2 separate regions of the Homo sapiens genome follow, and region 1 is linked to region 2. The links come from fine-mapping of genetic effects on gene expression. A gene starts in region 2. The other region holds a variant in brackets. All regions are shown on one strand. Distances are between the middles of the regions. Region 1 overlaps METTL22 (methyltransferase 22, Kin17 lysine). Region 2 holds the start of METTL22 (methyltransferase 22, Kin17 lysine).

Region 1 (8,332 bases), 26 kb after region 2:
TGCCTGCACAGCCATACTGTCGGTGGAGAAGAGGTGAGCTTTGCGCCACGGGAACCGTGCTGACGTCCCGAGTGTCAGCGGAACTCTCACCTCCTAATTGTGTCCTTGTCAGTGTCATTATGATTGTTACTCAGTGCCACTTATTGAGCACCTACTATGTGCCAGGTCTGTGCTCATCCTTTGTGTACGTTACTGCACTGAATCTGCATCCTAGCCCTGTGTGCAGGCGCTGCTGTCCCACTTGACTGATGAAGAGAGGAAGGCTGGGAAGCATCAGGGGCCTTGGCCAGGGCACGGCTAGTTAGTGATAGACAAGGACTTGAATGCAGACTGTACTGGAACCTCAACGCTTGGCCAGCACACACTGTTGAGAGCTTCTCTTCCTGAATGTTCTCTCTGTGGTGCCGTCTGTCTCTTCAGCTCCCCCAGGTCTCTTTCTCTTGCTGAATCGGACAGCTCCTCACCCAACAGCCTCACCCAGACATTTCCACTAGAATATCCTGAAATGTTAGGTTCCATTTATTGAGTGCCCACCTTGTGATAGCTACACACATTCTCCTGTAATACTTAACAGTAGTCCACAGCTTTTCTGAAGATCGTTCGGAATCCACAGCAAAAGCTGTAAAACGAAACAGACTTCTTCACCCAGCAATTCAGCATCTGGAAATTCACACTCAGGGTTGTGTACAAAGCTGTATGTACTTGCATATTTATTGCAGTGTTACTTATACCAATAATACCGAGGGCTTGCTTTGAGGCACACACTGAGCAATAGCAATGTACAGACCTCATTTGGATCCTGATTTCATAAACTGTAAAGGAAAAACATCAGGACAGTTGGGAAAAGTTGAATACTGAATATTTGATGTTAAAGGGTGATTGTTAAACTTTAGTTGAAGAGGTCTTCATCTTCTTGAGACACACACTGACATTTCCAGCTTCACAGAGGAAATGGGTTGGTGTCTGGCATTTGCTTTTTAATAACTCAGTGAGGGCAGGGGGCCCCGGGAAGAGCCAAGGTGGCAGAGTGGCTGGAAGTGGACAGTGGCTGAAGCTGGTAATGGGTTCATTAGACAGTTTTGTTTTTTTTGTTTTTTTGAGGCAGAGTCTTGCCCTGTCAGCCCAGGCTGGAGTGTGATGGTGCGATCTCGGCTCAGCACAAGCGCCACCTCCCGGGTTCACACCATTCTCCTGTCTCAGCCTCCCAAGTAGCTGGGATTACAGGCATGCGTCACCACACCTGGCTAATTTTTGTATTTTTAGTAGAAACGGGGTTTCACCATGTCGTCCAGGCTGGTCTCAAACTCCTGACCTCAGGTGATCTGCCCTCCTCGGCCTCCCACAGTACTGAGATTACAGGTGGGAGCCACCACGCCCAGCATAGACTGTTCTTACTCCTGTTGCATGTCTGGAATTTTTCTTGATAAAAAAATTTGGAAAGAAAAGGGAAAAAGGCAAAGAGCTTTAATTTCAAGTGAAACCATCTTGTAGACTAAGGTTTTGAAAGGCAAGTGGCAGGGTTGGGAGACCTGTTTCTGAAGGTGCTCACTCTCTGAAATCTCTCAGACCCCAGCTTCCCAGCAGTTTTCTCTCTGTTCTCTGTGCTCCCGGAGTCCTCTGCACCGCCCCCTGCCACTGCCTCTCATTCATTCATTTCTCAGATAGTTATGCGCAGCTCCAGGCACCAGATTCTGTGCTGGGTGCAGGCAGGACCTGGAGGGCGTCCTCAAGTGTTGATCTGCAGGACTGTCTTGATCTTTCCAGCAGTGTCATTGTGGGCACGTGACCTGAGCTTTCTGAGCCTGTTTCCACATCTGTAAAGTGCTATCCACTTCCACCTCCTGGGCTGTCGTGCAGATGTAGGAAGGAATTGCACTCACACACTCAGCATGAGACAGGCGCTCAGTAAAAGCCCGTCCAGGGGATATGAGATCAGTGAGGGATAGGAAAGCAAGGTGGGCAGAAACAGCAAAACCCTTCCCATTGATGATGGCAGTTTGTGCGTCCGACTGGCTGGTTTGCAGGCTCAACTTCACATTGAGACACTTGGACGTCACATGTGAAGCCTACGATCACTTCCGCTCCTGCCTGCACGCGCTGGAGCAGCTCGCAGATGGCAAGCTGCGCTTCGTGGTGGAGCCCGTGGAGGCCTCCTTCCCACAGCTCCTGGTTTACGAGCGCCTCCAGCAACTGGTAGGTCCAGGCCCCGAAGCAGGGCCGTTGGTTGCTTTACTGTGAAGCGGGTGACTCCAGGGCAAAGAGGTGATGAAGCAAGCCCTCCAAGCACAGGCTCCACCCTAGTCCTGCAGGGGGTGAAGCCTGCGTGCCTGGCACCATCTGTAGTGGAACCTGTTGGGGGAGCTACATCCTGTTCTTAGCAGCCACCATGTCTGGAGACGGGCCTACAGGCGAACCTTGTCTTTTACTTTATAGCACATATTCCCCCCGTTGGACAGTTCAGACTCCAGAGGAGGCAAGACCGAGGCAGAGGTTGTTTGGGGAACAGGAAGTCAGTGGAGGGAAGTTTGTGGGTTGCAGATCTTGGTGCAGGCGCCCCGCTGTGGTGGCCGCTGCTCACATCTTCACTGTGGAAGGATACCAGCCCCTCTCGGACTGAACTGGCTTTTCTATTAACTGGAGTCCAAAGATTGAGAATTAACTTCTTTTGTTCTGTTTGCCTTTTGGCTGTGGCCTCCCTTTCTCTATGTCTGTGGAGACCCGGGCCTAGTTCTAAGGAAAAAGGGAGGAAGAGGGAGTCACGAGGAGCTGCCGCCCTTGCACTCTGTCTCGCGTCCTGAGGGAGGGCAGCATGGAATTCGTGTGGTTTTGTGTGCGAGGAGGATCTTGTATTTATTGCTCTGCCACTTCTGGGCAGCATTAAGAGTAGCGTCACATGACCAAGAACACACATTTCTTACAAGTCAGCAGCCCCAATACATGATGCCTAAGACGTCCCAAAAAGGCCAGGTACGGTGGCTCCCACCTGTAATCCCAGCACTCTGGGAGGCCATGGTCGGAGGGTTGCTTGAAGCTAGGAGTTCGAGACCAGCCTGGGCATCACAGACCCTATCTCGACAAAAATCAAGAAAAAAAATTAGCCATGCATGGTGGTGCACACCTGTGGTCCCAGCTACTCTGGAAGCTGAGGTGGGAGGATTGCTTGAGCCCAGAAGTTCAAGGCTGCAGCAAGCTGTGATGGTGCCACTGCACTCCAGACTGGGCAACAGAATGAGATCCTGTCTCTAAAATAAAATTGTTTATAAAGATCTCCCCCAAAATGGAGAGATACGGCAACTCACTGCTATTCTGGTCTCTTCTGATTGTTTGACATCCTCTGATGCACCTTCCGTTAATGCTGGGACTTCATCCATCCAGCCTCTCTGCCACAGTAAAATAGAACAGCCCAGAGCAACAAAGAAAGGAGGAAGCCGCCCGTCCGCTCCTGCCCCAGCTCGCCTGCTCCGTGGCTGACGTGTTGTCTAACTACTCTCCTTGGTGAATCACTTTCCTTAATGAAATTGTGATGCTCTTGTATGTGCACTTCAGAAACCTGTTCTTTTCTCTGTTTGCTGCAGGAGCTCTGGAAG[A/G]TCATCGCAGAACCAGTAACATGACCCATCGCCTCCACAAGGCGCGGCGTCTCGACTGTTCTTAGAGTGTATTTCTAGTAAAATCAGAAGCTCACCAAAGCAACATGCTTGAGATTTTGTCATTTTAAAAATATGGTTACACGTACCTTAGATGACCCAAGATGGTTTTCTGGGGTCTGTCCCTGCCTCCCAGTTGTAGCCAGAGAAGGTTGTTGCTGTGGGCTGGAGGTCACTTTAGTTGCCTGTTTCTCATGGTTGTGATGTGTGCTCCAGGGTCAAGCCGAGCCACGTTCCTTCTCAGCTCAGTTCCACCCACGTCAGTCATTTCAGCTGTGTGCTTTACTTGCGGTTGCGGCCCTGGCTGTGAGGTGGATTCTTGTACTGCCCTCTGTCAGCTGTTTACAGATGGGTTGACTACCACTGCCAGTATTGCCATCATATTGCCGCTCGGCACAAAAGCCTCATTTCCTCCCAGGGTTGGGTATGCTCCACCCCATCACTCTGGTGAGGGCCCCATGAGAAGGAAGAGGCAGGAGCTGGCGCCAGGAATGGACTGGCATTGGCCTTTGTATTTAATTTTAACTCTTTATCACCCAAATCAGGTACGTTTGGAATAAACCTAAGAGCCACTCTTTGGGGTCATGTGCAGCTGACCAGGGTTTGTGCAGTGATCTTCCTCAGAGGTGTTCCCTTCCGCCTGGACTCATTTTCCCTCCGCCCCTTGGTCTCTCTGTCTTATCACGTGTGTACATGTCTGTCTGTCTGGTTTTTTATCTTCTCCATCTGTGCCTCTCTCCTCCCATCTCCACCCCTTCCTGTCATCCTCTATGTCCCACTGTCTCTCTCCTTCTCTCCAGTTTTGGTCCCATCTTCCTGCTACCCTTGGCCCTCCCTGCAGCCCCTTTCCCCTGCCTTGCTGCTGCCGCACACTTTGCACCAGGGCCTTTCATGGCCCCTTTCCGCCTCCCTTGCAGCTCAGGTTTCCTGGCTTCTCCATGCACTGTCCCTGCCCACACTCGCTTCTCCCCAAGCTCCCAGGTTCCATCCCTAGGCCCATCATACCCCTGGCATTGGCTAATCCCTCATGCCAGGGGCCAGGCACTTGCAAGTCTAACTTCATCTTCCCAACAAATTTAGGAGGTCCGCAGCCTTGTGATACCCACATTACAGCGGAGAAGACTGAGGTCCAAAAAGGAAAAAGTCTCCATGAGGTCAGGGACCTTGTTTGTCTTAAATATCACTACATCCCTGCTGTATGGTCTGGCAAACAGTAGATGCTCAACACATATTGTTGAATGAATTGCTAATGTAAGTTACTAATTAGGTCATTATTTCCTATTTGTGAGTGATTTTGCCTCCAGGAACATTTGGCAGTGCCTGGAGACATTTTCGGTGGTCACAAGTAGGGGAGACGGGTGCCACCAGTATCCAGTGGGTGAGGCCAGAGATGCTGCTGAACGTTCTATAATGCGGTAATCACGGAGCATCCCCCACAACACAAAATGATCCAGCCCAAAATGTGAGTAGCGCCGAGGCGGAGAAATCCTGACTTGGAAGAAGAAAGCCAAGTACTTTAGAGAAGAAAAACGGTCTCAGCTGAACCTGTAGTGAGAGCATGCAGGAGAGTGACCTCACCCTGCCCCTCTGGGAGCAAGAAGAAAACCTATGCATGTACGTTATTATAAATCTTCAAAGAACCTAAAAGGCAGAAGTGATCCCTATTTTGCACATGAGAAATCCAAAATTCAGAGAGGTTCAGCAACTTGCCCAACATCACACAGCAACCAAGGGCAGAGTCAGGTTTAGAGCCCATGTCCACCCATGTCCATCTGACTCCTGAGCCTGTGCTTTTCCCACATTCCCGCTGGAGCAGCAGCAGCATCTGTGGCATCACGTGGATGCTGGTTAGAAATGCAACATCAGGCTGAGCATGTTGGCTCACTCCTGCAATCCCGATACTTTGGGAGGCCAAGGCAGGAGGATCAATTAAGGCCAGGAGTTCAACCAGCCTGGACAACAAAGCAAGACCCCATCTCTATTAAAAATTAAACAGCCAATTAGTCTGGCATGGTGGTTTGCGCCTGCAGTCCCAGCTACTTGGGAGGCCGAGGCAGGAGAATCGCTTGAACCTGGGAGGCGAAGGTTGCAGTGAGCCAAGATCGCAACACTGCCCTCCAGCCTGGGCAACAGAGCCAGACATCTCAAAAATTAAAAAGCCAGGCGAGGTGCCGGGCATGGTGGCTCATGCCTGTCATCCCAGCACTTTGGGAGGCCGAGGCGGGTGGATCACCCAAAGTCAGGAGTTCAAGACCAGCCTGGCCAACATGGTGAAACCCTGCCTCTACTAAAAATACAAAATTAGCCGGGTGTGGTGGCTCATGCCTGTAATCCCAGCTACTTGGGAGGCTGAGGCAGGAGAATCACTTGAACCCAGGAGGCAGAGGTTGCAGTGAGCCAAGACCATGCCATTGCACTCTAGCCTGGGCAACAAGAGCAAAACTCCATCTCAAAAAAAAAAAAAAGCCAGGCGTAGTGGCTAACGCCTGTAGTCCCAACTACTCAGAAGGCAAGGTGAGAGGATTGCTTGAGCCTAAGAATTTGAGGCTGCAGTGAGCCATGACTGCACCATTGCACTCTGGCCTGGGCAACAGAGAGAGATCCTGTCTCCAAAAAAGAAGAAAAGTATCAAGCCTCAGCTCAGGACGTGATTCCGAATCTGCATCTCAACGAGACCCTGGGTGATTTGTGTGCACAGTAGTTTGAGAAGCTCTGGGGCCTACCACATAGCCCTCAACCTATTGCTGTTTTCTAAAATTCCTACACAAACTCCGTTCCTGACAGACTTGCCATAATGGAGCAGCATTGCAGATCACTACAGGGAATATTAATAATGAGTCTTCAAATCAGAACCCCACTAGACAGAGCCAACAACTGGCAGTACGTCAGCACTAATGGTGACAATTTCCTAGCACTCCTGGGTACAAGTCCATAAATGTAATTGGCACCAAGCAATAGAGTTGTCACAGCTTTCACCTGCCGCATTAGGGCAAACTGCTTTTATGTCTAAACCACTGGGCCTGAAAGCTTCCTCTAAGTAGAGCCTGGAATTAATCTTGATCCACTGTAATTCAAAGTATCGTCAGATTTTCATTTCCCAGAGTGGGAGCGCGCCCCCATTGCCATGTTTTATGGCCTTGTTTGAGCCTCTACAAGTGCTTGTTTGGCAGCGATATTCAGAATCACCAAACCATGGGGATGTTCTGCTAGGTAATTAGCCCAGGCCAGTGGACTCAATTTTTTTATAACATTTTCAGAAAAATATGTGACCCAAGGAGGGGACTTGGCTGTTCAGCTGCAGCCTGCATGGGAAAGAACTGTTAAAACCAACAAAGCCAGGCACAGTGGCTCACACCTGTAATTCCAGCATTTTGGGAGGCCGAGGTGGGTGGATCACCTAAGGTCAGGAGTTCGAGACCAGCCTGGCCAACATGGTGAAACCCCGTCTCTACTAAAAATACAAAAAAAAAAAAAAAAATTAGCTGGGCGTGGTGGCGGTCGCCTGTAATCCCAGCTACTTAGGAGGCTGAGGCAGGAGAATCTCTACAACCCGGGAGGTGGAGGTTGCAGTGAGCCAAGACTGCGCCATTGCACTCTACCCTGGGCAACAAGAATGAAACTCCGTCTCAAAAGAAATTAAAAAAAAAAAACCATTAGTGAAACTGTGGTCCCCAAAGCTTCTCAAACTAGTATGCACACGAATCACTTGGGATCTTGTCAAAATACAGATTCTGACTCAGGCCCTGGATGTGGCCTGATGCTGCAGTTTAACAAGCTCCCGGGTGATGCTGATGATGCTCGTCTGTGGGCCACACTGTGAGGAGTGAAGTTGCAACATGTCATCCCTGGTTAAGAGCACAAACTCTGGGTTGGATGTGGTGGCTCATACCTGTGATCCCAGCACTTTGGGAGGCAAAGGCAGGAGGATTACTTGAGGACAGGAGTTTGAGATCAGCCTGGGCAACATACAGAGACCCTATCTCTAAAAAACTTTTTTTTAATTAGCCAGGTGTGTCATGCACCTGTACTCCCAGCTACTCAGGAGGCTGGGTCGGGAGCATCGCCTAAGCGAAGGAATTCTAGGCTGCAGTGAACTGTGATTGTGCCACTGCACTACACCCTCACAGCCTTACAGACAGAGACGCTATTTCTAAAGAAAAAAAAACCCACCAACTCCGGAGTTGAGCAAGCCAGGGTTTAAATCCTGCCTCTGCTGTGTAACAGCAATGACCTTGGACAAATGACCTAGCCTCTCTGAACCTGAGTTTCCTCACCTGTAAAATAGTAAAACTTCTTGATAGGTTGGTGAATGGGTACAAACTTAGGGAAGAAATACCTTCTAATGTTTGGTAGCAGACTAGGGTGGCTACAGTTAGCAACAATATATTGTGTATTTCAAAGTTGCTAGAAGAGAGAACTTGAAATGTTCCCAACACATAAAATTATAAATTCTCAAGGTGGTGAATACCTCAAATACCCTGGCTTGATAATTACACATTCTGTGTATATAAAACACATTCATATGCACCCCATAATATGCAAAATTTCATTTATCAATAAATGAAAAAAAGCCAGATGTGGCTCATGCGTGTAATCCCGGCACTTTGGGAGGCCAAGGCAAATGGATCACCTGAGGTCAGGAGTTCAAGACCAGTCTGGCCAACATGACAAAACCCCGTATCTACTAA
Region 2 (8,332 bases):
GAGGCCAAGGTGGGAGGATTGATTGAGCCCAGGAGTTCAAGACCAGCTTGGATAACACAGCGAGACCCCATTTCTACTTTTAAAAAATGAAATAAGAAAGAAGATTAAAGGGTGTGTAAAGGAGAGCTACTTGGGCAGATAGTAGGGGTCAACACATGATGGGATGGGCAGGGAAGGGCCAACTGAGCAGATAATATTTAAGCTATGGGTCGGGCACAGTGGCTCATGCCTGTAATCCCAGCACTCTGGGAGGCCAAGGTAGGTGGATCACCTGAGGTCAGGAGTCGGAGACCACCGTGGCCAACATGGCAAAACCCCGTTTCTACTAAAAATACAAAAATTAGCCAGGCGTGGTTGCTGGCGCCTGTAATCCCAGCTACTCGGGAGGCTGAGGCAGGAGAATTGCTTGAATCCAGGAGGCAGAGTTTGCAGTGAGTAAAGATCGCGTCACTGCACTCCAGCCTGGGTGACAGTGAGACTCTGTCTCAAAAAATAAAAATAAAATAAAATAAAAAATAAAAATAATTTAAGCTATGTTGGACGAGAAGGAACCAGTTGTGACGATGGAAACTGGGCTGAGAGTGGGCTTTCTGAGCCAAGGGGAATGCAAATAAAAAGACCAGTAGGCACAAATTAGCTAAAACCTTGTATTAGTCTCTTAACTAAATAAAACTGGGTGACTTTAACCAACAGACCTGCATTCCCGCACAGTTCTGGAGGCCACGAGTCCAAAATCAAAGTAGCAGCATGGCTGGGTCCTTCTGGAGGCTCTGAGGGAGAATCCGTTCCGCGTGTCTGTCCTGACGCATGGAGGCTGCCGGCAATCCTGGGCGATCCTTGGCTCTTACATGCCTCACCCCATTCTCCGCCTGACTCCACATTGTCTTCTTTCTGAGTCCTCTCCTCTTGTGATAAGGACAGCTGTCATTGGACTTAGGGCCTGCCCTAAATCCAGGATGATTTCAAGATCCTTAACTACTTGCATCTACAATGACCCTATTTCTTTTCTTTTTTTTTAATACAGGGTCTCTCTCTGTTGCCCAGGCTGGAGTACAGTGACGCAAACACCACTCACTGTGGCCTCAACCTCCTGGGCTCAAGTAATCCTCCCTCCTCTGCTTCCCAAGTAACTGGGAACATAGTCATGCACGAACATCCCCAGCTGATTTTTTAAAGCTTTTTTGTTTATTTTGCTTTATTCCTTTTTACAGCTGAATAATAATCCCTTGATGCATACACCACATTCTGCCTAGCTTGAGAAAACATATAATTGTGAGGGTTTTTTTATTTTACATAATTGATCTTATACAGTATGAATGGCACTGTAACTTATTTTGTTTTTTGTTTTTCATCTACCAATGTGACGTGGTGAAGTGAGTAAAACTGGTGGGTTCTTTAAAATATAACAGACACTGTCAGATTATCTCAAGAAATGGAAGGGAGTTATTGTCTGGAACTCTCCACGGGTGATATGCCACTCATTCTCACAACACGCCAAGAAAGGTATTATCAGTATTTGAGCCACTAGGAAATTAAGTTTCATAGAAGTAAAGCAATTGCCCAAGTACCAAGGATATGAAAAGCTCTTCAAAATTAGGTAGTGAATGGATGAATATAATTAATCAGTGGCCGAGCTGGGGATTTGAACTCAGCTCTGTGCTCTTGAAGGTCAACCTCCTGCCTCTGCACACAGAACCAGGAACCAGAGCGCAGACTGCTGTGCATTCAAAGCAGCTGCCGTGATATGCTGATGGGAGGCGGGGGCAGAATTATCATCACCCACTTTCAGCAGTCCTGGAGGACAAGCTCTCTCTCCAGGAGGACAAAATTTTCTGGGGCTGACTGGGAAAACACATCAAGCATTTGGTAAATGCACGACCTTTGGAGAAAGGGCTGTTCTGAATAACCCAGCTAATAATAATCACCCGACAGCAATTTCCTGCAAGCTGGTTTCTTAATACACATCTGGCAGTTCATCCGCCTTCCCTCTGCTGCAGACATGGTTTGTCATTAGTCCAGGTGGTGGGAGTGATGGACACTCCAGCGTGTGTGAGCATGCACCTTAACCCTTGCTTCGCCAAGTCTGGGGGAGACTCTCAAAGCAAAAGACCTGCCTGGGACACTAGGGAGGGCATTTAACCCTAAGGCTCCACCCAGCAGACTCACTGGGACATTTTGAAAATGTGAGTCTGAGGCCAAGTGTGGTGGCTCATGCCTGTAATCCCAGCACTTTGGGAGGCCAAGGCGGGCAGATCACGTGAGGTCAGGAGTTTGAGACCAGCCTGGCCAACATGGTGAAACCCCGTCTCTACTAAAAATACAAAAATTAGCTGGATGTGGTGGCACACGCCTGTAATCCCAGCTACTCAGGAGACTGAGGCAGGAGAATTGCTTGATCCAGGGAGGCAGAGGTTGCAGTGAGCTGAGATGGCGTCACTGCACTCCAGCCTGGTCGACAAATGGAGACTCTGTCAAAAAGAAAAAAGAAAAGAAAAGAAAACGTGAGTCTGCGTCTCACTGGCTAGGTAACACTGAGCAAGGCACTTCACCTCTCTGAGCTTCGGAATGGGTGTGAGAATGAAACAAAACCACAAGATGAAGGGGCCAGCAGTGTGCCTTGTTTATAACTGAGGCTCCGGAACTGAGGGCCCCCTCCCGCACTCCCCCAGCTACCATCTCTTTGCAGCCCTGCCAAGAAGGGCTGGCTTTCTTTCCCCTTACCTGGTGACCTATTACTGTGTTGCAAACCACCTCAAAATTTGTGGCAGAAATGATAACCCTTTTGGGGCCATCTGGGCTGCTATAACAGAATACCATACATGGGGTGGCTGATAAACACATTCATTTCTCATGGTTCTAGGGGCTGGAAAGTCCAAAATCAAGGCACTGGCAGATTCTGTGTCCAATTCTTGGTCATAGATGGCTGTCTTTTTGCCGTGTCCTCACATGACAGAAGAAGTGAGGCAGCTCTTTGGGGCCTCTTTTGTAGGGGCACTAATCCCCTATAAAAGATTATAGGTTTGACAAGAGGAGGAATGTGATCTTTTGATTTTTAAGGGTCATTCCCCCGGTTTAAATTTGAAGACAAAACTCCCAAGGGTGTGAACAATGCCTTCCTAGTGCCCTCCCCACCACTCAACATCCTCTGGGGATAACTAAGAGAACCCTCAGCGAACTAGAGAGAAAACTATGAATAGAATCTGGTCCCAAGACACCCAACTGGCTCTCTGTGTACTGTCCTGGGGGATTTCAGGAAACATAATCTGTTTCTTAAAAAAAAAAAAAAAAAAAATTCTTATTTGTGTCGCTTAGTCACCCTATCAACTCTCCACGTTTTATCATCAGTAACCATGAAATTGATGTTGATTTAATTCTATTTTGAAAAGAGAAAAAAAAGTAATTTAGACAAAGGTTGCCAGCTGAGGCCATGTGTGTGCGTGTGTGTATATGTGAACACACAGGGATATAGATTTTACATATGTGGACTTTACATATGTTCCTGTGTGTATATTTGTATGTTCACTGACATGTCTGAGAGTGAGCACCACTGTGTGTGTCTGGGCATGTCTGTGAACACGTCAGTGTGGTGTATATCCCTGGCAGCTCCCCATCTCACGCACAGTAAAATCCAAAGTTCTTAGAATGTCACAAAAGTTCTAACCCTGGCTACCTATGTATCCTCGTTTCCTGCGGCCCATCCCCTGGCTTACTCCATTGTGGCCAGGCTGACTTCCATGATGTCACTGAATATATAGATTGAGAAAAGGGCCAATATTATTGACTGTACTTTTTCTAAAAATGCAGTGACTCAGGCAAGAGACGTGAGAATCTGTGGTCTATCCTGCTCATCCTCTTCAGGGGATTCTTCTGAGGGCTGTGCTCAGTCACGGACTCAGAGGCTTTCTGAAATTCTGCAGGCAAGAAAAAACGAGCAAACATGGAGTCTTATGTTTGCCACTCTGTCTCACCCCCTTGGTGTTGGAAACTTGATGAGCATACGAATTAACGAAATCACTACCACCTAATGAAATCACTACCACCTATTAATAATAACAAGTACTGGCTGGGCGTGGTGGCTCATGCCTGTAATTTATGAGCTTTAGGAGGCCGAAGCAGGAGGACTGCTTGAAGCCAGGAGTTTGAGACCAGCCTGGGCAACACAACAAGATACAGTCTGTACAAAAAAAAAAAAAAATGGTGCCACGCAACTGTAGTCCCAGCTACTAGAGAGGCTGAAACAGGATTCCTTAAGCCCAGGAGTTCAAGGCTGCAGTGAGCTAAAATTGCGCCGCTGCACTCCAGCCTGGGTGACAGAGCAAGACCATCTCAAATAAACAAACAAACAAACAAACGAGTACTAAGAGCATGGATGACGGTAACACCCGTGATAATAAATACAGTAGCATGCTGGTTAAATAGCACCGGCTCTGATCCCACACCCCGGGTTCGAATCCAGGCTTTACCACTTAGTAGCTGGGAGAGTTATTTAACTCCTATTTAAGTCTTTTAGAGGAATGAGTTTAGCCACCTAGGCGGGTCCCCCCAGCAAACACGCCTCGCCCGCGACCAGAGCGAAGGCTACAGGTGCCCGCCGGCAACCCTCGGACGCATGCGCGGCCCGGGCAGGTAGGTGGAGCCACGGTGCGGGGCAGTCGGATGGTCGCACGCGGGGGCGGGGCCGCGCCTGCGCAGACCGCCTGTTATGGCGGCCGCCTAAGTCCCACAGAGACGGGAGTCGGGTGGGATCCCAGGCTGGGCCCCGCGGCGGGTAAGTGCCTGGGAGAGGCGGCGGGATAGGGTAGGGTGCAGGGAACCTCCTGGCGCCGAGCCTGACTTTGAAATCCGAGCTCCCACAGATCGGAGGCCCAGATCCCTAAGGCCCGACCCCACTCTTAGCGTCAGTTTCCCCTTCTCAACACGGGTGTTGGGGAAAGAAGTCCACGTCCTCACCTGGGTTTCCATCCTGGGTCCAGGCACCTCTCCTTCGGTTCTAGATTAGGAAGGGAGGGCAGTGCCCGACCTGTGACTGTTTTTTGAGAGGGCAATAGTTAACCCACAAGGGTGGCGTCAGGAAGGCGACAAGACAAAGAGAACGAGTAGCCCCACGGGGGACGTCCCCGGAGCCCCTCACTACCACTCTACGCACCGTGGCCAGGCCACGTCTTTCCTGCCCCCAGCCTGGGCCTTCACACCCTGCCCTCCCCAGCTCCTGGCCTAAATCGTCATGGGATCGCGCCAAATTATTGATTGTTGAGTGAGTTGCAGTTATCAGAAAGAAAGATGAGGAGGGAAGTTATTTCAACACCGTGATCCCAGCACACTGCTTATTTGGGACAACTGACTGGGGACCTATAGGAGAAGAAAGCTGGTAGCGTCTCAGTCTAGCCCCCACAGCCTTAGAAGAGCCAAGAACACGTTAGCTCCTGCTGCAGGGATGAGCCTGCAGCCCTATGGAGAGGTGGTGGGGCAGGTCCCCATCTGCAACCTGGGTCTCCTTTCTCAGCTCTGCCCAGTAAAGAGAGGAGCCCGAAGCCCATACAGACCCTGCATTTCCGGAAAGAGACTTTTCCTGACTAGAGAAACTGTTACCTTTTTTCTTTCTTCCCAGCATTCACTTTAATCATTATTATATTACTATAATGATAGTATTTACTATTGTTGCTTATTGAACGTTTACTATATGTCGTAAGCCCGAAAAGTGGTAATTGTCTCATATACTCCTCTGAGTATATGAGGGCCTGAGATAGGTTCAAGAGGGCCTCCTTATTCCCAGATAGCTGATTCTAGGGAAAGCCACTTAAAGGGAATCTCCTTCATCTGGAACTTACATTGCAGCGTACATTTCTTGGGAAGCCTGGTTGGGTTGAATTTAAAAATGGAAAATTCAACTAGAGATTAAGAATTTGAGTTTTTTTGTGTGTGTCTATACTTAAAATTTGGTGTGTAATATTATGCTCACTTTTGGAAAAAGCAAAGAACATTGATTTTTCTGGGATGTAAGTTTTCCAACAAAATTGCGCTATAGGCCATGCCTGGTGGCTCACACCTATAATCCCAGCACTTTGGGAGGCCAAGGTAGATGGATCTACCTTGGTCAGGAGTTCAAGACTAGCCTGGCCAACATGGCAAAACCCCATCTTTACTAAAAATACAAAAATTAGGTGGACATTGTGGTGCATGCCTGTAGTCCCAGTTACTCGGGACTCTGAGGTAGGATCACTTGAGCCCAGGAGGCGGAGGTTGTAGTGAGCCGAGATGGCACCACTGCACTCTAGCCTGGGCAACAGAGTGAGACTCTGTCTCAGAAAAAAAAAAAAAAATGCGCTATGGCAAAAAAAGAAATGGCATCCTTTGGTTCACTTTTGATTTTTACAGCAATATTAGAGAGGATCTTCCCCACCCCCTTCAAAAAAAACTGTATGTGAAAGTCCTCAGTTTTCCCCCAGGACATCTCTAAGTCCTGAGAGAGCTTGATCTGCCTTTGAAATGAGTGGTAGGTATAAGCTGTATTTTCTCTTCTGGAATCTGGTGTGGTTTTGCCAGTCCGATTGATTGAGTGTTGGCCTTCAGGTCCAGCATTTCTCCATCACTTTCAATGACACCATGAAATTCTGCATTGATTTGCCAGATTCACAGACTTTCTTTACAACCCACTTGCATTTTGATGGCTTTATGGTGTTGAGTAGGAAAGCTAGCATGGAGATGAATAAGGAATCATCTTTTTCTTAAAAATTTTTTTGTTGGGACAGCTTTTGCTGCCCCACAGCAACCACTTAAATGTAGGAACTCCAGCAGTGTACTGGGATCATTAGGACAGCCTGAGTCATGATGACCTCATTTTGCAGTTGAAGAAGTGGGGGCCCTGAAGATTTCATGACATCTACCCAGGTAGGAACAGCTCCTATAGGCAGTCAGGGGTTACAGGCAGGTTTGGGTCAAATACCTGAAACCAACCCCAGGACAAGGAGGTTGCTGGTGTTTTATTAACACCTACTGTGAGCCAAGGACTCTGCTCAGCAGTTTACCCACCCAGTAACACTGCGTGAGATTGTGGCTGAAGAAACAGATGCAGAGAGGCGAAGTGATTTTCCTGAAATCACATGGCTAGAAGGTGAGAAACCAGGGATCCCCACCTGGTCTGTCCAGCTTCAAAGCCCATCAGACTACTGCTGTTTGATGATGCTTTTTGATTAGGTGAAACGGTTGGAGGGAGGTCCCACCTGTTCTTGACCACTTTGCCTCAGCCATGGTTTTCCAAGTTTTAGTTATTAATGTGTCACCTGCATAATTTTGCCATATCTGTGTATCACCAGTGTAGTGACTCCCTTACTACTTTTCCTTTAAATCCACTCACTCTTTTTTTTTTTTTTTTAATTTCTTTTTGAGACAGGGTCTTGCTCTGCCACCCAGCCTGGAGTGCAGAGTGCAGTGACGCATTCTCAGCTCACTGCAACCCCTGCCTTTTGGTGTCAAGCGATCCTCCCACCTCAGCCTCCCAAGTAGCTGGGACTACCAGCGCGCGCCACGACACCCGCCTAATTCCACTCATCTTTTTAAATTCAGTAGCAGAGCTTTAAGCCAGGCATGATGGCTCACGCCTGTAATCCCAGCACTTTAGGAAGCTGATATGGGAGGATGGCTTGAGCCCAAGAATTTGAGACCAGCCTGGGAAACATAGTGAGACCCTTGTCTCTACAAAAAAAAAAAATTTAATGCCAAGTATGGTGGCATAGCTGTAGTCCTAACTATGAAGGAGGTTGAGGCAGGAGGATCGCGTGAAGTTTGAGGCTGCAGTGAGCCATGATTGTACCACTGCACTCCAGCCTGGGCAACAGAGCAAGCCCCTGTCTGTAAAAAGAAATGTTTAAAAATAAAACATTGTTTAAAATAGGAAAGCTTTATAACAACAAATGATGTGGGGACAGTTGATAACAGCTTCTAGAATAAAAAAGAAAGAGTAAAGGGCCATAACAACTAAATGCAAAGTGCAGATTGTGATTGGATACTGGTTTCTGGGGGAAAAAAAACCTCAAAGACCTTTGGGAGACAGATGGAGGAAATTGACTTTAATGCTATTAGGGAATTATTAATTAACTTAGATTTGCTAATGGTCTTATGATTATATAGGGAAATGCTCTTAGGGGACAGACATTAAATAATTTAGGGGCAAAATGTCATGATGTCTACAATGTACTCTCAGCTCAAGGAGAAGAAACCAGAGAGGGCAGGCACGTGTGGCAAAATGGTGAGGATCATTGAATCTAAGCAGTAGTTCTACGGTTATGATATTCCCCTGTATCCTTACTGTTTGAAATTTTTTTGTAATAAGTTG

Evidence for each region. PIP is the estimated chance that this variant, and not a neighbour inherited with it, causes the effect.
Region 1: its variant is fine-mapped to the expression of METTL22 in whole blood (INTERVAL, PIP above 0.99).

The regions. Positions count from the first base shown.
Region 1 is chr16:8,642,533-8,650,864 of GRCh38, forward strand. It overlaps METTL22 (methyltransferase 22, Kin17 lysine), which reads left to right. Exons shown (of 11, transcript NM_024109.4): 9 at 1-33; 10 at 2,025-2,193; 11 at 3,576-7,122. The coding sequence ends at 3,611. Among named protein-coding and RNA genes, the nearest start is that of METTL22, 25 kb to the left of the region's middle. The variant A/G (reference allele first, on the strand shown) is at 3,588.
Region 2 is chr16:8,617,008-8,625,339 of GRCh38, forward strand. METTL22 (methyltransferase 22, Kin17 lysine) reads left to right here and starts at 4,691. Exons shown (of 11, transcript NM_024109.4): 1 at 4,691-4,768.